Regions from separate parts of the Homo sapiens genome. Here regions 1 and 3 are each linked to region 2. The links come from fine-mapping of genetic effects on gene expression. A gene starts in region 2. Each other region holds a variant in brackets. All regions are shown on one strand. Distances are from middle to middle.

Region 1 (8,180 bases), 53 kb after region 2:
AAAGTGAAAATGTGTCAAGCAGCACAGTTACTATGCTCTGAAACTTCAAAGCTGGGATGATGGAGAAGGCTCTGTGAAAAAGGTCGTATCTGAGGAGGGTCCTGAGGAGGGAAATGAATTAGGACAGGCAAGGAGTGCTTTTCAGGAATAAAACCATGAATCAAGACACGGATGTGGAAAAGGGATGGGGGCCCCTGAGGAACAGTGAATGGATCAGTTTGACCAACTATAGTAGAAAATAAAGTTGAAGAGATAGATTGAGGTCACATAGTAGAGGACACCAAATACTCAGCTAAGGAGTTTGGACTTTACTCTGCAGGTGATAGGAAGCCACTGAAGATATTGAACTAGGGAGTATCCAAATACGAATCTGGTAGTTACATGTAAGGACTGCAGTCAGGAGCCTTGTCAGGACCACTCAATTGCTTAATTCTACTAATGCTTACTGATGCCTACTAACTGCTAGGTGCCAGAAAAGTAAAGGTGAGGAAAACAGATCTTTTTATTCAAGATGCTGAGTCTGGCAGAGGTGGCAGACATATATAAAAATAACCGTAACTTTTTAAACTAAGCATAAAAATGGTAAAGAAGCTAGGCGCAGTAGCTCACGCCTGTAATCCCAGCACTTTGGGAGGCCAAAGTGGGTGGATTACCTCAAGTTAGGAGTTCGTGACCAGCCTGGCCAACGTGGTGAAACCCCATATCTACTAAAAATACAAAAATTAGCCAGGTGTGGTGGCATGCGCCTGTAATCCCAACTACTCAGGAGACTGAGGAACGAGAATTGCTTGAACTCAGGACGCAGAGGTTGCAGTGAGCCAAGATCACAGGATTGCACCCCAGCCTGGGTGACAGAGTAAGACTCTGCCCCCCACCCCCCCAAAAAAAACAAAGGTAGGCCGGGCACGGTGGCTCACTCCTGTAATCCCAGCACTTTGGGAGGCCAAGGTGGGCGGATCATGAGGTCAGGAGTTTGAGACCAGACTGACCAACATGGTAAAACCGTCTCTACTAAATATACAAAAATTAGCCAGGCGCAGTGGCGCGTGCCTGTAATCCCAGCTACTCAGGAGGGTGAGGCAGGAGAATTGCTTGAACCTGGCAGGCGGAGGTTGCAGTGAGCCAAGATCAAGCCACTGCACTCTAGACTGGGCAACAGGGCGAGACTCCGTCTCAAAAAAAAAGGTAAAGGGCCGGGCGCAGTAGCTTACACCTGTAATCCCAGCACTTGGGGAGGCCAAGGCGGGCGGATCATGAGGTCAGGAGTTCCAGACCAGCCTGACCAACATGATGAAACCCCATCTCTACCAAAAATTTAAAAATTAGCCAGGCATGGTGGCATGCACCTGTAATCCCAGCTATTCAGGGGTCTGAGGCAGGAGAATCACTTGAACCCAGGGGGCGGAGGTTGCAGTTAGCCGAGGTCGCGTCACTGCACTCCAGCCTGGGCGACAGAGCGAGACTCCATCTCAAAAAAAAAAAAAAAAAAGGTAAAGGAACAAAAACACAGGACTAACTCCCTAGAGGATTTGGAAACGCATCAAGAAAAGACATTTGAGACCAGGCACAGTGGCTCACGTCTGTAATCCTAGCACTTTGGGAGGCCAAGGCAGGCAGATTGCTTGAGCTCAGGAGTTCGAGACCAGCCTGGGCAACATGATGAAACCTCATCTCCACCAAAAATACAAAAACTAGTCAGGCATGGTGGAATGCACCTGTAGTCCCAGCTATTTGGGAGGCTGAGGTGGGAGGATTGCTTGAGCCCCCTGGGAGGTGGAGGTTGCTGTGAGTTGAGATCGCACCACTGTACTCCAGCCTGGGTGACAAGACTGAACCCCGTCTCAATTTAAAAAATATATATATAAGCATATATAAAAGAAATGGCTGGGCACAGTGGCTCACGCCTGTAATCCCAACACTTTGGGAGGCCGAGGAGGGTGGATCACCTGAGGTCAAGAGTTCAGGACCAGCCTGGCCAATATGGTGAAACCCCATCTCTACTAAAAATACAAAAATTGTCCAGGCGTGGTGGTGTGCCTGTAATCCCAGCTACTCAGGAGGCTGAGGTGGGAGAATTGCTTGAACCTGGGAGGCGAGGCTGCAGGGAGCCGAGATCATGCCACTGCACTCCAGCCTGGGCAACAGAGCAAGAACCTGTCTCAAAACAACAACAAAAAAAATGAAATGACATGTAAGCAATCATGAAAAATGGACAGAAATAACTACAGAAATAATAGAGACCAGATGTGTATAAAGACCAGAGAGATTAGAAAAAGATGATAGGAAAAGTATCGTTTGATTTCATTTAAAAATTTCCTCAAGAGCCATATGGAGTGGCACGTGACCATAGTCCCAGGTACTCAGGAGGCTGAGGAAAGAGGGTCACTTCAGCCAAGGAGTGCAAGTCCAGCTTGGACAACACAGTGAGACCCTATCCGTATAAAAATTAAAAATAGCGAGGCCAGGTATGATGACTCATGCCTGTAATCCTAGCACTTTGGGAGGCCAAAGTGGGAGGATTGCTTGACCCCAAGAGTTTGAGACTAGCCTGGGCAACATAGTGAAATGCTATCTCTACAAAATATTAAAAAATTAGCAGGGTGTGTCTGGGCGCAGTGGCTCATGCCTGTAATCCCAGCACTTTGGGAGGCCAAGGCAAGCGGATCACGAGGTCAAGAGATCGAGACCATCCTGGTTAACACGGTGAAATCCCGTCTCTACTAAAAATACAAAAAATTAGCTGGGTGTGATGGCGGGTGCCTATAGTCCCAGCTACTCGGGAGGGTTAGGCAGGAGAATGACGTGAACCTGGGAGGCCGAGCTTGCAGTGAGCCGAGATTGCACCACTGCACTCCAGCCTGGGCAACAGAGCAAGACTCCATCCCAAAAAAAAAGAAAAAAATTAGCCAGGCATGGTGGCGGGCACCTGTAGTCCGAGCTACTCGGGAGGCTGAGGCAGGAGAATCGCTTGAACCTGGGAGGCGGAGGTTGCAGTGAGCCGAGATCATGCCACTACACTCCAGCCTGGCGAGAGAGCAAGACCTCATCTCAAAAAAAAAAAAAAAAAAAAAAAAAAAAAAAAAAAGCCAGGCATGGTGGTACACACCTGTAGTCTCAACTATTCAGGAGGCTGAGGTATGAGGATCATTTGAGCCTGAGAAGTGGAGGCTGAGGTGAACTGTGATTGCACGGCACCACTGTACTCCAGCCTATGCGACAGAGTGAGACCCTGTCTCAAATAATAATAATTAAAAGCCAATGTCCTCAAGAATTTTTTATATGAATTTGAGAAA[C/T]AAAAAGTAGAAAACTAGTGAAAGAGGATATAGAAGAAGAGGGTTAGCATTTAATGCAGAGGATAAAGATTGTGGTCAAAGAAACATAATCTGAGATTTTAAAAAAATAGTAACCAATATTTACGGAGATCTTAGTAGATGCCAAGCATGATGTTAAGTATTCTACATAGATTAGCTCATTTAATCTCACATTACTGCTCTGTGAGTTAGGTGCTATTATTAAGATTCCCATTTTATAAATGAGAAAACTGAGCTTAGAGAAACTAAGTATCTTAAGACCACATCGTAGTTAAATGAAATGAGCCAGAAATCAAACCCAGATGGTTTAATTCCAGAGCCACAGTCTTAACTAGTAGGCCACCCAAGAAGGATTATCTAACAGGGCTCTTGGAAAAGACAGATATGGGAGTGGGGAGGCGAGTGTAGAGCAGAGAATGGTCTGAGATGAGGCTGGAAAGTGAGACTTCCATCAGGATGTGAAAGTCTTACAGCAGTCTGACCTTCTTACATAAAATCAAGAGCTTATTTATTTATTTATGTAGAGATGGAGTCTCACTATGTTACCCAGGCTGGTCTTGAACTCCTGGCCTCATGCAATCCTCTAGCCTCAGCCTCCTGAATAGCTGGGATAACAGGGTTGAGCCACTGTGCCCAGCTAATCAAGAGATTTTGAAGATCTTAATTTCCTGCTGTTGAATACATTTCCAGAATCCGACCATTTCTGACCACTTCCATTGCTACCACCTTCGCCCAAGCCACTATCATCTTTCATGTGATTTGCTAATATTGTCCTAACAGATCTTCCTGCTTTTATCCTCACTCCCCTGGAGTTTGTCTCCTTTTAACAAACAACCAAAGTCATCCTTTAATATAAATTAGAGTATGTCTCTGTTTTATGCAAAATCCAGCACTGGCTCCCCATTTCAGAGAAACAAGGTCCTGAAAATAGCCTTCTGCTTCCATCCCCACTACATCTCTGACCCCATCTACTAATAGTTTTCACCTTACTCTCCCCCAACACTGACCTCTGCGCTTATTCACTCATGCCCCTGCCTTAGGGCCTTCGCTCTAAGCTGTCCCCACTGCCTAGAAATTCTTTTCCTATATATCCACTTGATGAATTCCTGCAACTCCTTCAAATACTTGTTTAAAAATCACTTTCTTATTGAGATCTACTTAATACTATAACCTCTCACCTTCACATGCTCCCACCTCTACCTGCTTTCTCAACTCCCCTTACTCTGATCCACTTTTCTTTTTTCCACACCACTTATCACATTCTAACATACTGGAAAGCTTACTGATATTTATTGTCTGTGTTCCTCTGATAGAATATAAGCTCCTCAAGAGCAGAAATCTTTTTGTTTACTGGTGTAACCCAAGAACCTAGAAGAGCGTCCAAGGTGGAATTCAATAAAAACTGACAATAGAAATGGGCTAGGGTTTCTCTCAGCCTTAGCGCCATTTTCTTGGAAACCTCTGCATCATGAGAGCTAAGTGGAGGAAAAAGCGAATGTGCAGTCTGAAGCACAAAAGAAGAAAGATGAGGCAGAGGTCCAAGTAAACCGCTAGCTTGTTGCACCGTGGAGGCCACACAGGAGCAGAAACATGGAATGCCAGATGCTGGGGATGCTGGTACAAGTTGTGGGACTGCATGCTATTGTGTAGAGCTTGTCTCAATGGATCCAGAACTTCACCGCCCTCTGATCGCTGATCACCTCTGAGACCCACCTTGCTCATAACCAAAACTGCCCATGTTGGTCCTCTGCCCTGGACCTGGGACATTCTGGACTATTTCTGTGTTTACTTGTGGCCGAGTATAACAACCATACGATAAATCATCTCTTCTGCTGTCTTAGCTGAAGAATCAAAAAAAAAGAAAAAGAAAAAAAGAAAAAAAAAATTGGCTGGGCATGGTGCCTCATGCCTGTAAATCCCAACACTTGGGAGGCTAAGGCAGGAGGATCACTGGAGCCCAGGAGTTTGAGACCAGCCTGGGCAACACAGCAAAACCCTATTAAAAAAAATTTTTTTTTAATGAAAAAATTAGCCAGGCATGGCAGTGCACACTTGCAGTCCCAGCTACTTGGGAGGCTGAGGCAGAAGGATCACTTAAGCCCAGGAGTTCGAAGCTGCAGTGAGCTAGAATCATGCCACTGCACTCCAGCATGGGTGACAGAGCAAGACCCTGTCTCAAAAAATAAATTAATTAAGTAAATAAATACATGTATTAAGCAATAAAAATATTTATTATCTCATCCCTTTTTTATTTTTTTGAGACAGAGTCTCCCTCTATTGCCCAGGTTGCAGTGCAGTGGCGTGATCTTGGCTCACTGCAACCTCTGCCTCCTGGGTTCAAGTGATTCTCCTGTCACAGCCTCCGAAGTAGCTGGGACTACAGGCACCCCCCACCACACCCGGCTAATTTTTGTATTTCTAGTAGAGACGGGGTTTCGCCATATTGGCCAGGCTCAAACTCCTGACCTCAGGTGATCCACCTGCGTTGGCCTCCCAAAGTGCTGAGATTACAGGTGTGAGCCATTGCGCCCGGCCTATCTCATTATTTCTGTGGTTTGGGACTCTGAGAGTGGTTTAATTAGACAGTTTTGGCTCTGAGGCTCTCATGAGATTGCAGTCAAGATGTAGGCTGGGGCTGCAGTCAATCTGAAGGCTTGACTAGGCCTGGAAGACCCACCTCCAAGATGGCTCACTCAATGGTTGGCAAGTTGATGCCAGCTGTGGGCAGGAAGTCTCAGTAGCTCCCCGTGTAGATCCTCCATAGGGCTGCTTGAATGTCTTTATAACCCAGTGGCTGGCTTCCTCCAGAGCAGTCAATCCAAGAAGAGCAGGGCAGAAGCAGTAATGTCTTTTATGACTTTGTTTTGGAAGTCATACACTATCATATCCCTATATTCTAATGCTCATACAGACCAACCCTGACGAACTGTAAAAGGGGACTACACAAAGGCATGAATATTAGGAGGTGAGCATCACTGGGGGGCATCTTGGAGGCTGGCTACTGTAAGCTGTAACCAGTATTTGTGTAATATTTTGTGGGGTTTTTTTTCCAGTATACCATATATATATTTCAATAAACACATCTTACATACTTCTTATTTTAGGACCTGCATGTTATTCCAATGATATTAACTGTTTTTGTTCATTTGTTTATTCTTAGAAAAAAATAATATATAGAAATAAGCCAGGTTAGCTGGGCATGATGGGACATGCCTGTAATCCCAGCTACTCGGGAGGCTGAGGCAGGAGAATTGCTTGAACCCGGGAGATGGAGGTTGCAGTGAGCTGAGATCGCACCATTGCACTCCAGCCTGGGCGATAGGGTGAGACTCAGTCTCAAAAAAAAAAAAAAAAGAAAAAAAGAAAAAAAGAAAAAAAGAAATAAACCAGGCGTGGTGGCTCATGCCTGCCTGGGTGAGAGAGCAAGACTCGGTCTCAAAAAAAAAGAAAAGAAATATAGGCAGGGTTTCACTATGTTTGTCAGATTGCTCTCAAACTCCTGGCCTCAAGCAATCCTCCACCTTGGCCTCTCAACATGCTAGGATTACAGGTGTGAGCCATCACATCGGCTGCTATTAACTCTTAAAAATGAACAACTGGCCAGGTGCGGTGGCTCACGCCTGTAATCCCAGCACTTCGGGAGGCTGAGGGGAGTGGATCACCTGAGGTCAGGAGTTCAAGACCAGTCTGGCCAACATGGTGAATCCCCATCTCTACTAAAAATACAAAAATTAGCTGGGTGTGTGGTGCACGCCTGTAATCCCAGCTACTTGGGAGGCTGAGGTAGGAGGATCGCTAGAACCCAGGAGGCAGAGGTTGCGGTAAGCTGAGATCATGCCACTGCACTCCAGCCTGGGAGACAGAGCAGGACTCCATTTCAAAAAAATAAATAAAAAACAAAACAAATAAACAAACAAAATGAACAACAATGCTGACTTGACTTTTAACTTCCATCTTCTGTTATAGTCCTAATATTTTACTTAAGGAAAAGAATTAAAGTCAGAAAAACTACAACTCACACAATGTACTTCTTGTTTCTAAAGGTGAAAAGAAATTTAAATACCTTTTTGTTTTTTTTGAGATGGAGTTTTACTCTTGTTCCCCAGGCTGGAGTGCAATGGCATGATCTTGGCTCACCACAACCTCTGCCTCCCAGGTTCAAGAGATTCTCCTGCCTCAGCCTCCAAAGTAGCTGGGATTACAGGCATACACCACCAAGCCCAGCAAATTTTGTATTTTTAGTAGAGACAAAGCGGGGTTTCTCCATGTTAGTCAGGCTGGTGATCATCTCAGGTGATCCACCTACCTTGGACTCCCAAAGTGCTGGGATTACAGGCATTAGCCACCTCGCCAAGCCTTTTTTTTTTTTTTTTTGAGACGGAGTCTCGCTCTGCTGCCCAGGCAGGAGTGCAGTGGCACAATCTCGGCTCACTGCAAGCTCCGCTTCCCGGGTTCACACCATTCTCCTGCCTCAGCCTCCCGAGTAGCTGGGACTACAGGTGCCCGCCGCCACGCCCGGCTAATTTTTTGTATTTTTAGCAGAGACGGGGTTTCACTGTGTTAGCCAGGATGGTCTCGATCTCCTGACCTCGTGATCCGCCCGCCTCGGCCTCCCAAAGTGCTGATATTACAGGTGTGAGCCACCACACCCGGCCCTTTTTTTTTTTTTTTTAAATGAGAAGATGTCTTGCTTTATCACCTAGGCTCAAGTGCAGTGGTGCAGACACAGCTCACTGCAACCTTCACCTCCTGAGCTCAAATGATCCTCTTGCCTTAGCCTCCTGACTAGCTAGACTACAGGAATGAGCCACCATGCCCAGTGAATTTTCAAATTTTTTATAGAGATGGAGTCTTGCTATGTTGCCCAGG
Region 2 (8,160 bases):
GTGATCCGCCTGCCTCAGCCTCCCAAAGTGCTGGAATTACAGGTGTGAGCCCCTGCACCTGAGGAAAGGCTGCCCTTTAATTAATTCCAGTGCATCACTGGACTAAGTGTTGCCCAAAGTAATTCAGGATTCCTGGGGAGGAATCAGAACACCTGTTTGGAACCAAAAGCTGATTCTCAGCTAGAGCCTCAGTAAATGGCAACTTGCAGAAGTGCTCTTTGCTTTACAGAGGAAGATGAAGCCCAGAGACACGATGTGACCTGTGTGGAGGTGTGGAGTGAGGCAGCCGTGGAGCTGCAGTGCCTTACCTCAGAGCCTGCGGGCACTGGACCTGCACCATCCCCCTGTCCTTGTCTTGGAAGAAACTCTCCAGGTCCTCCTCATCTTCAGAGAGGTTTTCATCACTCTCTGGGTCAGACTGAAAGAGAGACTCCAACAGACACCATCTCCCTTTCTGCTTCAGTTCCTGTAAGTTCTGGTAAATGCTCCCAGTTGAGTCAGAAGTAGAATCTATCTCCTCCTCTGGGCTGAGGAACTCGTCAAGTTTGCTGGCCCTGGGCAAAACCAGCCCATCCCCGGACAGCTCCTCTCCTGCCTCTGTGTCTGCGAAGGACTCGGGGGGAAATATCTAAAATAGAATAGAAATAGGCTGTGGGTCAAACAATAATTTCAAAGGTATTCAAATCATAACTTAATTTCGCTTTGAATAAGCTTCTGTATATTAGGGACTGGGGAGAATTTGGGGTCTGCCAGATGCACTGGCTCACACCTGTAATCCCAACACTTTGGGAGGAATTTTTAAAAATAAGGTGTGTTTCTTGGTCTAAAGAAATTTCACAACTTGGTCTATGAAGTGCGCTTGGTTGAAGGGATGGAGAGGGAAGTGAAGAGCTGAAGTTGGTTCCCTATGCCATACAGTGCAGTAAGCTTTTACAGAGTACCTCACCTACACCAGGCTTTCTGACCCCTGCACTCCAGGAATCCTGCCCATGATGATGGCCACACTCTCCCTTACTTGGGTTTTAACCTACTTCTTGCTCATCTTCCTTCTCTCCCTTCCCTTATTTCTACTCCTCTGCTTTCCTCATGTTCTAGCTAATTTGCACTCTGTCAAGGAATGGATGATGGCTGGGTGCAGTGGCTCATGCCTGTAATCCCAGCATTTTGGGAGGCCGAGGGAGGTGGATCACCTGAGGTCAGGAGTTCAAGACCAGCTTGACCAACATGGTGAAATCCCGTCTCTACAAAAATACAAAAATTAGTTGGGCGTGGTGGCGGGTGCCTGTAATCTCAGCTACTGGGGAGGCTGAGGCAGGAGAATCGCTTGAACCCGGGAGGCGGAGGTGGCAGTGAGATGAGATTGCGCCACTGCACTCCAGCCTGGGCAACAAGAGTGATGCTCCGTCTCAAAAAAAAAAAAAAAAAAAGGAATGGATGATTAACAAGACAGACAGTATGGTCTGGCTGGAAGAGCAATGTCTTAAGAAGTGGGACACACAATTAACTTTTTCAGTACTCCATTCATTCATAAAATATTTACTGGGTGCCTGATGTGCACTGGGCATTTGGCTGAGAACAAGACAAACAAGGTCCTTACTCTCATGAAGCTTACACTGTAGTAAGAGGAGACAGACAATATAAGATGATGATAAATTCTGTGAAAACCATAAACAACTGTGAGGTTATAAAAAGATGGAGTGCCTATGGAAAGCTTTTTGGTTGATAAAGTCCATCAGATTAAGGTTATTAGGAATGTACTTGTAATCAGTACATCAGTTAGGCTTATTAACTTGCTGCAGGACACTACGGAAAACCACAGGGAACTTAGGGTTGAGGGTGTGATTTTTATAGGGTTGGCTTCCCTGATTGATTCAGGGAACCAGGTATCAACTCTGGAATGGTGCTGTCATGAAGTGGGGACAATTTAGTTAAGCGAATGACTGAGCAATTTTTTTTTTTTGAGACAGGTTCTTGCTCTGTCACCCAGGTTCTGGAGTGCAGTGGTGCAATCATGCCTCACTGCAGCCTGAACCTCCTGAGCTCAGGTGATGATCCTCCCACCTCAGCCTCCCGAGTAGCTGGGACTACAGCACACACCATCACACCTGGCTAGTTTTTGTATTTTTTGTACAGATGGGGTTTCACCATGCTTCCCAGGCTGGTCTCCAACTCCTGAGCTCAAATGATCCGCCTGCCTTGGCCTCCCAAAGTGCTGGGATTACAGGCGTGAGCCATTGGGCCCCGCCCAACGGCAATACTTATTCAAAAGGTGAGAAGAATAAAGTAGGGTGGGTAAGTAATTGATCAGTAAGCCTTTTGGAAGAAGGGGTGTTAGTAATTTTGCACCTATGTTATGGCCCTGAGAGAAACACTGTTTCCTGATGCTCTTGCCGTTGGCATTATCTATGCCTATGACAGTCTGAGTTATACTTTCTCAGTCCTGGGCTGATTTTTATTTTTCATTGTGGAGGAATTTTGAATTGACACTTGATTGATGAGGAGCCAGGCTTACTAAAATCCAGGGTAAGAGTCAGAGATATGTATGCACCCTAGCCCTGGCTCTGCTACAGTGTGTGATCTTGGGCACGTTTTTTCTTTTCTTTTAAAGACAACTTTATTAAGACATAATTTCTATACAATATATTCACTCATTTAAAGTGTACAATTCAGTGGTTTTAGTATATACACAGAGTTGTGCAACTACCATCACAATTTTAGAACACCTTCATCGCCCTTAAAAGAAATGCCACACGCTTTAGTGGTCACTCCCTATTTCCCCTAACCCTCCACACCCCACCCCACCAGCCCTAAGCAACTGCCAATCTACTTTTTGCCTTTAATAGTTTGGGGTCCACCAGGTGCACTGGCTCACGCCTGTAATCCCAGCACTTTGGGAGGCCTTGGCTGGTGGATCACTGGAGGCACGCGCCACCACACCTGGCTAATTTTTTTTTTTTTTTGAGACGGAGTCTCGCTCTGTCGCCAGGCTAGAGTGCAGTGGTGCAATCTTGGCTCACTGCAACCTCCACCTCCCGGGTTCAAGTGATTCTCCTGCCTCAGCCTCCCGAGTAGCTAGGACTACAGGCGCGCACCACCATGCCCAGATAATTTTTTGTATTTTTTTGTTTGTTTGTTTTTGTTTTTGAGAGAGTTTTGCTCTTGTTGCCCAGGCTGGAGTGCAATGGCACAATCTCGGCTCACTGCAACCTCCACCTCCCAGGTTCAAGCAATTCTCTTGCCTCAGCCTCCCGAGTAGCTGGGATTACAGGCATGTGCCACCACGTCCAGCTAATTTTGTATTTTTTTTAGTAGAGACAGGGTTTCTCCATGTTGGTCAGGCTGGTCTTGAACTCCTGACCTCAGGTCCCAAAGTGCTGCATTACAGGAGTAAGCCACCGCACCCGGCCAATTTTTGTATTTTTAGTAGAGACGGGGTTTTGCCATGGAAACCAGCCTGGTCTCGATCTCTTGACCTCATGATCCGCTTTCCTTGGCCTCCCAAAGTGCTGGGATTACAGGCGTGAGCCAGCGCGCCTGGCCAATTTTTTTTTTTTTTTTAAATTTTTAGACGGAGTTTCACCATGTTGGCCAGGCTGGTCTCGAACTCCTGACCTCAGGTGATCCACCCGCCTCGGCCTCCCAAAGTGCTAGGATTACAGGCGTGAACCACCACGCCCGGCCAAATTTGGGGAGCAATTTTCTTAATCTCTTTGTGCCTCAGTTTTCTCTTCTACAAAAATGAGACGACAATTGTACTACTGGTCATAGAGTACTAAGAGGATAAGCGAAAACTGAGTGACATTGCCTATCAAGAGCCTCGTATAAAGTCCGAGAGGTTCAGGTCTGTAAGTCAGAGTCCGCCTCCTGGTCCCTAAACGCTCATTTTAATCCCACGCCCCTCCGTGACACGCCCCTGCTGTCTGTCTCCAAGGCAACGCCCAACAGTTTCCTCTCCGGGATTCCTTTCCCGGGGGCAGTCTCTTTTCTCTCCTCACCTGACGGCTCCCCTCCGCGCCTCCGGGGGCTCCCTCAGGCCTCCCCACGGTCATTTCAGCTGGACAGAGGCAGCAGCGACAGTGACAGCGATAGTGGCAGCAGCGGTGGCAGCGAGAGCTATGCGGGGCCAGGGTCCACCCCTTTCTAGCTTTGGCGTCTGGTTGGCTTCCAGGGCAGCCTCCGATCCATCCCGCCCGAGGAGGCAAGGTTCGTTTTCCGATTGGCCTATTTTCTCCGCGCATTTTATTTCCGGTTCTGAGGACGCCGCGGAAGCGGGACGGGATTGGAGTGCTCTGCTCCGGACGCACTACGTAGGTGGGCCTGCGGGAGTTCTGAGTGCGACGGCGCAGGTCTGCACCATGGCGGCCCGGCTTGTCAGCCGATGCGGGGCTGTGCGTGCAGCTCCCCACAGCGGCCCGCTGGTGTCCTGGCGCAGGTGGTCCGGCGCCTCAACAGACACCGTGTATGACGTGGTGGTGTCGGGTGGAGGCCTGGTGGGCGCTGCCATGGCCTGTGCCTTGGGTAAGCCCTTCTCCAGGCTACTAGTGGCCGGAAACCGGGCCGCGGAGGCACGATGAGAGCCGTGAGAGCCCTAGCACGACTTGCCCAAAGACAATTTCTCAGGTCTCGCGACGCTTCTCCCCTCCCCTCCTAGAGGAACCCCAGGGCACGCCGGAATGCGTGTGGTCCTTCAGGGTCCATTAGGGTCAAAAGTGGGAGGGGCGTTCAGAGTCTGTTCTACTCATGGGAAAACAGGCCTTCCCGGGGTTATTTATAAATGAGAGTTCCAGTTTCTCCAGATCCTGGACAGTACTTGTCATTGTCTTTTTGTTTATAGACATTCTAGTGGGTGTAAGTAAAGTGGGATCTCCAGGTTTTGACTTGTATTTCCCTAATGATTAATGATGTTGAATATCCTTTCATATGTTTATTGGTCATTTGTATATCTTCTTTAGAGAAATGCCTATTCAGACCCTTTGCCCGGTTTTTAATTGAGCAGTTTGTCTCTTGAATACTGTGGTAAGAGTTATTTTTATTTTTTGAGACAGGGTCTTCCGCTGTGCCCAGGCTGCAGTGCAGTGGCACGATCACGGCTCACTGTAGCCTCAACCTCCCTGGCTGAATTGATCCTCCTGCCTCTGCCTCCCAAATAGCTGGGACTGCAGGAATGCGCCACCACTCGGCTGATTTTTGTATTTTTTTGTAGAGACGAGGTCTCACTATGTTGCCCAGGCTGGTCTGGAACTTCTGGGCTCAAGCAATCCACCTGCCTCAGCCTCCCAAAGTGCTGGGATTACCGGCATAAGCAACCCTGCCTGGCCATTATTTTGTTTATTCTGTATAAGTCCCTTATCTGATAAATGACTTGCAAATATTTTCTTCCATTTTGTAGTCTTTTCACTTTTTTTTTTTTCCCTGAGATGGAGTTTCGCTCTTGTTGCCCAGGATGGAGTACAATGGCACGATCTCAGCTCACTGCAACCTCTGGGATTACAGGCTTGTGCCACCATGCCTGGCTAATTTTTGTATTTTTAGTAGAGACGGGGTTTCACCATATTGGCCAGGCTGGTCTCGAACTCCTGATCTCGTGATCCACCTGCCCCTTCCTCCCAAAGTGCTGGGATTACAGGCATGAATCACCATGCTTGGCCCATTATGAGATTTTTTTTTTGTGATTTTTTTTTTTTTTTTAGCTCATCAGCTATCATTAATATTAGTGTTTTTTTATATGTGACCCAAGACAATTCTTCCACTGTGGCCTGGGGAAGCCAAAAGATTGGACACCCTGATCTAAGGGCAGCTGTTCCACCCTATGATCCTCATCTCACAAGATACACAAAATTTAACTTAAAGCAGATCATAGACTTCTGTAACAGGGTGGTTCTCATGGCTGCTTGGGAGGCTGAGGCAGGAGAATCGCTTGAAACTGGAAGGGGGAGGTTGCAGTGAGCTGAGATCGCGCCACTGCACTCCAGCCTGGGCAACAAGAGCGAAACTCGATATCTCAAAAAAAAAAAAAAAAAAAAAAGAAGATAGTGCCCTTTACAGAGCATGCTCTACAGAGCATGTCCCTGTGCCCCATCCTCCACAGCAAAAGCTGCCAAGATGGACCGCTCACTGTCTGTATGGCTGGAGCTAACTTTTTTTTTTTTTTTTTTTTTTTTTGAGACAGAGTCTCTGCTCTGTCACCCAGGCTGGAGTGCAGTGGCAGGATCCCAGCTCACTGCAACCTCTGCCTCCCAGGTTCCAGTGATTCTCCTGCCTCAGCCTTCTGAGGAGCTGGGACCACAGGCGCCCGCCATCACACCTGGCTAATTTTTGTGTTTTTAGTAGAGATGGGGTTTCACCATGTTGCCCACGCTGGTCTTGAACTCCTGAGCTCAACTGATCCATCACCTCAGTCTCCCAAAGTGCTGGGATTATAGGTGTGACCCACTGTGCCTGACCTTTCTTTCTTTTCTTTTCTTTTTTGTAGTTTTTGAGACAGGGTTTTGCTCTGTCCCCCAGGTAGGACTGCAGTTGCACAAACATAGCTCAGGTGTGCCACCATGCCTGGCTAGTTAAAAAAAATTTTTTTTTGTAGAGACAGGGTCTCGCCATGTTGCCCAGGCTGGTCTTGAATTCCTAGGCTTGAGCAATCCTCCCACCTCGGCCTCCCAAAATGCTGAGATTACAGGCGTTAGCCACCATGCCTGGCTCACGTTTTCTTTTATAAACTCTAATTCTTTCTTTTTGAGACAGAATTTTGCTCTTGTTGCCCTGGCTGGAGTGCAGTGGTGCAATCTCCTCCTCCCAGGATCAAGCGATTCTCCTGCCTCAGCCTCCCAAGTAGCTGGGATTACAGGTGCCCGCCATCACACCTGGCTAATTTTTTTGTATTTTTAGTAGAGACGGGTTTCACCATGTTGGCTAGGCTGGTCTTGAACTCCTGACCTCAGGTGATCTGTCCACCTCGGCCTTCAAAGTGCTGGGATTACAGGTGTGAGCCACCGCACCGGCCTTTATAAACTCTAATTCTTTATTCTTGGTTTAATCTTGAGACTGCATTGAATTTTGCTTGTTTATTCCACTTTTTCTTTTGAACAGGAGTTGTAATTTTTAGTGACTTAATACTCTGGAGATTGAAAAGAACTGGTGTTTAAATACTGTAGTCTAACTTTTTTACTTCATTTTTCCTTTCTAGGGCATTCTGTTTGCTAGTTAGGTGTTTGCCATTATTTGCTTCTTGGCACGTGGCATGTAGTGGTCTTTGGAGAAGTCTTACAGTTGTGGGCAGGGTGGTTCTCATAGCTAAAATGGTGGTATATGTTATTGCTTAGGACTCTGCATGGGTATAGTGTTTATGTTCTCTGTAAGAAATTCATATTCTAAGGGTTAAGTGGTTACTCTGTTGTTTCTCTTGGTAATGGGAAAGGAAATTCTTGATTTTCCTAAGATGATATAAATTTTCTTTTTTTAAGGATATGATATTCACTTTCATGACAAGAAAATCCTGTTGCTCGAAGCAGGTCCAAAGAAAGTACTGGAGAAATTGTCAGAAACTTACAGCAACAGGGTCAGCTCCATTTCCCCTGGCTCTGCAACGCTTCTCAGTAGTGAGTAGAAGATCCTCCTTCAAAGATCCAATCTCCTTTCCCACTTAGCTTTCTAGTGTATCCCATGGGGCAGAGTCATCAGAGCATCTGACAAGGAGGGAGCTCACTGAGGTGGGTGGAGAGAGGGGGTGGGATTGGTAGTCTAGGGCAGAGTTGAAGATGTGGACCCCTGCAGTTGCTACTGCCTCAACTCCCTGTCTGAGGAATGCATCCTTGAGGCATGTGGGTCCATCATGTTGACTTCACTTGTGATGTTGTGTCATTATGAATTGGTGGAACTGAAATCATATGAACTAATCATGAACATTCACTTTGAATAGCAGGGCTCTCTTCATCCTGAGTCAAGCCTTCTAGCAAGCTAGGGAGCTTACACGTGAAATTCCCTTGGGGTGCAGATGAATAATGTGTGCACATGGAACCAGTTAGCAAATTGTCATTAGGTCTGCTAGATGTTTCCCTCAGACCATCCTGTCTGAAACCACCCCATCTCAAATTGAACTCTTCCATCACTTTCTAGCCCCTTTCCCTGCTCTATTTTTCTTCATAATGCTTACTACTACCTGGCATT
Region 3 (8,180 bases), 130 kb before region 2:
AAAATCTCTCCCTCTCCTCTCCCCTCCCTTTCACCCCTTTAGCTTCTTTATCCATCTATTTGCACAGGGCAAATTCTAGAAGTCATTTTTCATTCTTCCTTTTCCCTCATCCCACACATCCAGCCCATCACCATGTTTAGTCAGTTATATTAAATACCTCTTGTCTCTACCTCACTTTTCTTTACATTTCCGCAGACACATTCTTAGTCTAAGCCACCCTCATTTTTCCCCTGGACAACTGAAAAAGCCTCTTTAGTGGCCTCCCTGCTTCACAACAGTCCCTCCCAAATACATTCTCCACCAGAAGTGAGAATGAACACTTCAAAAATGTAATTTGGGGCCAGGTGCAGCGGCTCATGCCTGTCATCCCAGCACTTTGGGAGGCCGAGGCGGGCAGATCACTTGAAGTCAGGAGTTCGAGACCAGCCTGGCCAACATGGCGAAACCCTGTCTCTACTAAAAATACAAAAATTTGCGGGGCATGGTGGCAGTCCTAGCTACTCGGGAGGCTGAGGCATGAGAATCACGTGAATCCAGGAGGCGGAGGTTGCAGTGAGCCAAGATCGCACCACTGCACCCCAGCCTGGGCAACAGAACAAGGCGCTGTCTCAAAAAAAAAAAAAAAAGTAATTTGGTGATATATAGTCATTGTCTCATTAAAGGGGTATTTATTGAGTGTCTGCTATTGTGCTATGTATCAGACAGTGAACAAGTCTCTGCTCTTGAGAAGCTTACAGTCTCATGCTGAGAGACAAGCAATAAACATAATTAAATTCATATGTTAGAAGGTGATAACCGCATGGAAAAAAGTAGATCAGGTAAGGGGATCTCAGGGAACATAGGTCTATGTGTTTGTTGCAGGGGGTTGTAATTTTAAATTGGGGAGTAGGAAATGTTTGATCTCTAAATATCATTTCCTACTAAAAGAGTTCCTAAGAGAAATGTCTAATTCCATGCCAGAGCTAAGAAATGCTTAAGATGATTCTGGAACATCTTGTTACACCAGAAAGCAAAGAACCTAACAAAGACCGTTGGGGTGGCATCAAAAGGACCCAATAGCCAAGTTCAAGAGACTCTCATTGGCCAAATATGGAACAATTTGAGTGTCTGAAAGAATAACAACTGCAATGGGTCAAAATATATACATGTCAAAATACCTGAGTTCGGCCTGGCGTGGTGGCTCACACCTGTAATCCCAGCACTTTGGGAGGCTGAGGCAGGCAGATCACCAGGTCAGGAGATCGAGACCATCCTGGCTAACATGGTGAAACCCTGTCTCTACTAAAAATACAAAAATTAGCCGGGCATGGTGGCGGGCACCTGTAGTCCCAGCTACTTGGGACTACAGAATGGTGTGAACCCGGGAGGCAGAGGTTGCAGTGAGCCGAGATCGCACCACTGCACTCCAGCCTGGGCTACAGAGTGAGACCCCGTCTCAAAAAAAAAAAAAACGAAAAAAATCTGAGATCATAATGATACTTTTAAAGTCAAGAACACAACCCATTGGTCACTTTTGGCAAGTTCTAAGGAACCAATTAATTATTCTGAAAACTGGTAAAGAAAAGGACAGAGTTAAGCATGTAGCCTGCTTTCTCTGTATGAAAATAACCAAGGAATCCAAATAGTTGACAAGGAAAAGTTCCTCTTTATAGACATATTCCAGCTAAGAAATGAAGAAAAAAGATAGAATTAGAATATCATCATTTTACAGCCTCTAGGGAAATAATCAGTCTAGGCCATGATCATCAACAGCTTCTAACATCGCAAAAAGAGCGAGAGCCAGATATTCAGCTCCTGACGAATGGACACAATACATCTTGTGAAGTAGTTTGGGTTTCCAGATAAAACACACAATGTTTAGTTAAATTTGGATTTCAAATAAATATCAAATAAATTTTAGTATAAATATATCCCAAACGTTCCATGAGACATACATATGCTGAAAAATGTTCAAGGACCAGGCTGGGCATGGTGGCACACACCTGTAATCCTAGCACTTTGGGAGGCCGAGGTGGGCGGATCACGAGGTCAGGAGATCGAGACCATCCTGGCCAACATGGTGAAACCCCGTCTCTACTAAAAATATAAAAATTAGCTGGGTGTAGTGGCACGTGCCTGTAATCCCAGCTACTCAGGAGGCTGAGGCAGGAGAATCGCTTGAACCAGGGACTTGGAGGTTGCAGTGAGCTGAGATCACGCCACTGCACTCCAGCCTGGGCAACAGGGTGAGACTTTGTCTGCCCCCACCCCCCCAAAAAAAAAGTTCAGGGACCGGGCGCGGTGACTCACACCTATAATCCCAGCATTTTGGGAGGTCGAGGCAGGCAGATTGCTTGAGCCCAGGAGTTCAAGACCAGCCTGGGCAACATACCAAGACCTCACCTTTACAAAAAATTAAAAAAGTAGCCGGGCGAGGTGGTGCGCACCTGTGGTCCCAGCTTCCTGGGAGGCTGAGGTGGGAGGATCGCTTGAGCCTGGGAGGCAGAGGTTGCGGTGAGCCGAGATCGCCACTGCACTCCTGCCTGGGCAATACAGCAAGACTCTATTAAAAAAAAAAAAAAAAGCTCATTATCTGAAATTAAAACTTAACTGGGCATCTTGTATTTTTATTTACTAAGCCTGGCAACCCTAAAAGTAGTGTGGCCAAAATAATCACACGTGAACCCACTTTAACCTCAAAATCTAACTACTACGAAATACAGCAATATTGTGATCAGCAACATTCAGACTGTGAGAAACTTTGTCCTGCAGAACAGACCAGTCAACTTTTTCAACACGTAGAAAAAGAGAGAGAGAAAAAGAGACGGAATTTGGTTTAGATTCTGATTCAGTAAATCAAGGGTAGGTGCAGCCACTACAAAAATTAGTCTGGCTTCTGAGAATCGCCCTTCCTCTGACTCCAGGCTTCCCCTGGGCTTTCACGTCATAGTGCAGCAACACCAAACCACTTTGAATTGAGGCCCCTTAGAGGCAATCTTGAGAGATGCTTGGGGCCAAGTCTTGTTTCACTAAACCAGGTTACAAGTGGAGGGGTGATGTGAGGAGGGGAGAAAAAGCTAAGATCTTAGTTTTTGGGATGGGATGAGATGAGAGCTGAGGTGCAGCAACTGCAATGGGAGAGGGCACTTTGGGGAAGGAAGCAGAGATGTTTTTAAAAGGCGATGATTGGGAAGTTTTGTTGGTGATGTGTGATGTCTGCCCCTCCTTTTCCTGCTCATGCCTTTGGAGCGGGTAATTTGGATGCTGGGCTGGATCTACAGGGCTTAGAAGTGTGGTTGAAGGCTGAGTGTGGTGGCTCACGCCTGTAATCCTAGCGCTTTGGGAGGCCAAGGTAAGTGGATCACTTGAGGTCAAGAGTTCGAGACCAGCCTAGCTAACATGATGAAACCCTGTCTCTACTAAAAATACAAAAATTAGCTGGGCATAGTGGCACAGGCCTGTAGTTTCAGCTACCCGGGAGGCTGAGGCAGGAGAATCACTTGAACCTGTGAGGCAGAGGTTGCAGTGAGCCAAGATCCTGCCACCGCACTCCAGCCTGGGCGACAGAGCAAGACTCCATCTCAAAAAAAAAAAAAACCATGCCAGGTGCAGTGGCTCATGCCTGTAATCCCAGCACTTTGGGAGGCCGAGGCAGGCGGATCACGAGGTCAGGAGTTCGAGACCACCCTGGCCAACATGGTGAAACCCGGTCTCTACTAAAAATATAAAAATTAGCTGAGCATGGTGGCGGGCGCCTGTAATCCCAGCTACTTGGGAGGCTGAGGCAGGAGAATTGCTTGAACCCAGGAGGCAGAGGGTGCAGTGGGCCGAGATCGTGCCATTACACTCCAGCCTGGGCAACAGAGCAAGACTCCGACTCAATCAAAAAAAAAAAAAAAAAAAGAGGAAGAAGGGTGGACGAAGAAGTCATGGCTACCTTCAGGCCATATCACACCAGATTCTATTTAGATCTGTCTCCCTGCCATGAACCCCTCAAGGGCACAGACTGTGTTTCCAGCTTCAGATTTCCTATTGCCTATTAAAGTGTCTGTCACTTCATACATATCTGGTGAATAAATGAATGAATGAATGAGTGAATAAAGCCTCCTGATTTGCAGAGATGGTGGTCTTCTGATATAACAAATTGTGCTCATCAGATATACAATTGCCTTATGGAACACTGAATTTAACCTTTGCTATGTCCACACACCAGGAAGGAATATTCTAGACTTAGCAACTAGGCTCAGGCTGGGCATTGTGGCTCACACTTGTAACCCCAGCACTTGCAGAAGCTGGCATGGGAGAATCACTTGAGCCCAGGAGTTTGAGAACAGCCTGGGCCACATGGCGAGACCTTGTCTCTACAAAAAATAAAAAAT[T/C]AGCCGGGTGTGGTGGCATGTGCCTGTAGTCCCAGAAACTTGGGAGGCTGAGGTGGGAGGATGGCTTGAGTCTGGGAGGTTGAAGCTGCAGTGAGTCGTGGTTGTGCCACTGCACTCCTGCCTAGGCAATAGGGCAAGACCCTGTCTCAAAAAAGAAAAAGAAGAAAAGAAAGAAAGAAAGGAAAGGAAGGAAGGAAGGAAAGAAGGAAGGAAGGCGAAGGAAGGAGAAGGAAAGAGAAGGAAAGGAAAAGAAAGAAAGAAAGGAAAGAAAAGAAAAGAAAAAATGCACAGAACATATTTGGACAATTTAACAAATAATTACAAAGCAGCTCTCTGTGTAACCAACACTTGCGTCAAGAAATAGTAATGACCGGGTATGGCAGTTCATGCCTGTTATCCCAACACTTGGGGAGGCCGAAGTGGGAGGATTGCTTGAGCCCAGGAGTTAAAGACTGCAGTGAATTATGATTGCACCACTGCACTCCAGCCTGGGTGGCAGAGCGAGACCCTGTCTCAAGAAAAGAAAAAGAGAGAGAGAGAGGGAGGGAGGAAGGGAGAGAGAGAGAGAGAGAGAGAGAAAAGAAAAGAAAAGAAGGAAAGTAGGTTCAGTTCACTGGGTCAGAAGCCCTGGAGTCACTTTCCCAGGCATCTTGAGACGCTTTCCTATGTGAATGGAAAGCCCAGCTTGCTTTCTGTTTTCTCTTGCAGTTCAGCTTTGTGAGTGTCTGTAGTGTATGTGTCTTGTGATGTGTTATGGGAGCTGTGATGAGGCTTACATCACAACCAGAAGATGACCTTGGAAGGAGAACCCTGGACAAGGCAGGAAAAATAATGAGGGCAATCAAGAGTCTGGAAAGCCCTGGCAGCTATGAAAGGTTTGAGCCATGCACCAGTCACCATCTGTGTACTCAAGAGAAAGAAAGAAGAGATGAAAGATACCGCTCCCTTCACCCCGCGCCTCTATCTAGAGGAAAGAATAACACAAAGAAAAAAAAACATGAGAGAAAGGCTGCCTCTTGAGAACCCTGGGCTTGACTTAAAAGGTTCTCCTTCTATGACCATGACGTAATAAGTCATTTTTTATATCTGAATAACATTGTTCTTCTACAGCATCATCTTATGAGCTATAAATGTATCCCGTTGATACTGCCACTAAAATATTTTGGGTTTTTTTTCCTGAGGTTTTTAGAGGAAAAAATCAGGACTTAATCTTTTTTTTTCCTGCTTAATCATACATTTTATTCCTCAGACATGGTTCAGAAGGACTCTGGATGGTCCAAAAACTCATATTCGCCTGCAAAGGTGGAGGTTGTAACCACCGGGAACATGCTATGAGTTAGGCAGACATTATTCAGTGAGGAGGCCTAGAAAGGCATAGAGGCGGCAGCAGCACAGGTGCAGTAATGAGAAGGCGCCCCAGGCTGCAGACTCCGTGAGGGCAGAGACCATCCACCATTGACACACAGTAGGTGTGCTGTAAAGTTTGTTGAATGAATAAATGAAAGAAAGAGAAAGACTATCACATATATGGAAGTGTAAGTTCTTCAGTGTCTTTTAAAAACTAGAAAAAAGGGCTGGGTGCAGTGGCTCATGTCTGTTATCTCCCTTAACAGGAGGATTGCTTGAGGCCAGGAGCTTAAGACCAGCCTGGGCAAAAAATTGAGACCCATCTCTATAAAAAAATTAAAAAATTAGCTGGGTGTGGTGGTGCACATTTGTAGTCCCAGCCAGCTACTCGAGAGGCTGAGGTGGGAGGATCACTCGAGTCCACAAGTTTGACACTGCAATGAGCTGTAATCACCCCACTATACCTAAGCCTGGGTGGACAGACTGAAACCTTATCTCCAAAATATATATATATGTGTATATATATATGTATATGTGTATATATATATATGTGTGTGTGTGTGTGTGTGTGTGTATATGTATGTATGTATATATATATATACTGGGTGCAGTGGTTCATGCCTGTAATCCCAACACTTTGGGAGGCTTTGGGAGGCTGAGACAGAAGGATTGCTTGAGCCCAAGAGTTCAAAACGAGCCTGGGCAACATATTGAGACCCTGTCTCTATTTCTATTTAAAAAAATAAAATTCTTTCTTTCTTTTTTTTTTTTTTTCTGAGACTGAGTTTCCTTGTGTCACCCAGGTTGGAGTGCAGTGGCGTGATCTCAGCTCACTGCAACCTCCGTCTCCCGGGTTCAAGTGATTCTCCTGCCTCAGCCTCCAGAGTAGCTGGGATTACAGGCACCTGCCACCATGCCTGGCTAATTTTTATGTTTTTAGTAGAGACGGGGTTTCGCCATGTTGGCCAGGATGGTCTCGAACTCTTGACCTCAAGTGATCCACCAGCCTTGGCCTCTCACAGTGCTGGGATTACAGGCATGAGCCACGGCGCCCAGCTACCCGCCCCCCCCAAAAAAATAATAATAATTTATTTCTTAAAAAAGTAAAAAAAACAGGCTGGGCATGATGGCTCACGCCTGTAATCCCGGCACTTTGGGAGGCCGAGGTGGGCAGATTAACTAAACTCAGGAGTTTGAGACCAGCCTGAGCAACACGGTGAAACCCCGTTTCTACTAAAATACAAAAAACTAACCAAACGTGGCAGCATGCGCCGGTAATCCCAGCTACTCGGGAGGCTGAGGCAGGATAATTGCTTGAACCCGGCAGACAGAGGTTGCAGTGAGCCGAGATCGTGCCACTGTACTCCTGCCTGGGAGACAGAGCGAGACTCCGTCTCTAAAAAAAAAGTAAAAAAAAAAAACAAAGCCCTGGAAAAAAGAAGCCCAATTTATCCATTAATTGAGTCTCACATAGGACCTGAAAATGACATTTCCAGGTGCTTCTCAAGGAAGCTGAGTCCATTTCACCAGAGTAAGAGGTCCTAGAGCCAGCACCAGACTCCATCAGGAAACCAGCACTCTCGGGAACAGCATTGGAATCCCAGGGAATTTAAAGGTATTTTTGTTGTTGTTGTTGTTCTTAATGGAAACAACCCTTCAAGTAAAGACTACAAACTTCTTTTGTGTGCAAGCTGATAGCGCCTCAGCTTTGGGACGCTGTGTTAGTTTTCCTGGGCTGCCATAACAAAATACAACAAACTGGGTGGCGTAAAACAACAGAAATTCATTGTCTCGCAGTTCTAGAGGCTACAGGTCCAAAATCAGGGTGTTGGCAAGGTCGCGTTTCCTCTGATAGAGGTCACGGAACCCTCCCTTGCCTCTTCCTAGCTGCTGGTAGTTTGCCTTGGCTTGCTGCAGAAGCAGTCCAGGCTCCCCGCGTCCTGTTCTCCCTGTGGGTCTCTGTCTTCACATGGCCATCTTCTTATGACACCAGTCATGTTGGATTAGGGGTCCATCCTACTCCAGTGTAACCTAACCTTACCTCATTACATCTGCAATGACCTATTTCCAAATGAGGTCAGACTCTGAGGTACTGGGTTAAGGGGTTAAAACTTCAATATATCTTTTTTTTTTTTTTTTTGAAACAGAGTCTTGCTCTGTTGCCCAGGCTAGGATGCAGTGGCACAATCTCGGCTCACTGCGACGTCCACCTCCCAGGTTCAAGCGATTCTCCTGCCTCAGCCTCCCAAGTAGCTGGGATTACAGGCTTGCACCACCACGCTCAACTAATTTTTGTATTTTTAAGTAGAGACAGGTTGGGAGCGGTGATTCACGCCTGTAATCCCAGCACTTTAGGAGGCTGAGGCGGGCAGATCACAAGGTCAGGAGTTCAAGACCAGCCTGGCCAACAGAGTGAAACCCCTAAACTCTACTAAACTCTACTAAAAATACAAAAAATTAGCTGGGCATGGCGGC

Alleles and levels. Positions count from the first base shown, and alleles are read on the strand shown. Sizes are in standard deviations (SD) of each study's normalised expression.
For the expression in sigmoid colon of the gene that starts at base 4,325 in region 2, allele T in region 1 goes with a lower level than allele C (small effect, 0.23 SD a copy in GTEx).
For the expression in aorta of the gene that starts at base 4,325 in region 2, allele T in region 3 goes with a higher level than allele C (small effect, 0.29 SD a copy in GTEx).

What was found. PIP is the estimated chance that this variant, and not a neighbour inherited with it, causes the effect.
Region 1: its variant is fine-mapped to the expression of COQ6 in sigmoid colon (GTEx, PIP above 0.99).
Region 3: its variant is fine-mapped to the expression of COQ6 in aorta (GTEx, PIP 0.94).

What each region holds. Positions count from the first base shown.
Region 1 is chr14:73,998,617-74,006,796 of GRCh38, forward strand. All of the region lies in intron 3 of ENTPD5 (ectonucleoside triphosphate diphosphohydrolase 5 (inactive)), which reads right to left. It also overlaps the pseudogene RPL41P4. Among named protein-coding and RNA genes, the nearest start is that of ENTPD5, 17 kb to the right of the region's middle. The variant C/T (reference allele first, on the strand shown) is at 3,294.
Region 2 is chr14:73,945,978-73,954,137 of GRCh38, forward strand. COQ6 (coenzyme Q6, monooxygenase) reads left to right here and starts at 4,325. Exons shown (of 12, transcript NM_182476.3): 1 at 4,325-4,518; 2 at 7,458-7,592. The coding sequence starts at 4,356. FAM161B (FAM161 centrosomal protein B) reads right to left here and starts at 4,117. Exons shown (of 9, transcript NM_152445.3): 1 at 3,996-4,117; 2 at 309-628. The coding sequence starts at 4,049. RefSeq lists enhancers at 4,007-5,007, 4,024-4,083 and a silencer at 6,077-6,375.
Region 3 is chr14:73,811,450-73,819,629 of GRCh38, forward strand. No RefSeq gene overlaps it. Among named protein-coding and RNA genes, the nearest start is that of LINC02274, 15 kb to the right of the region's middle. The variant T/C (reference allele first, on the strand shown) is at 4,359.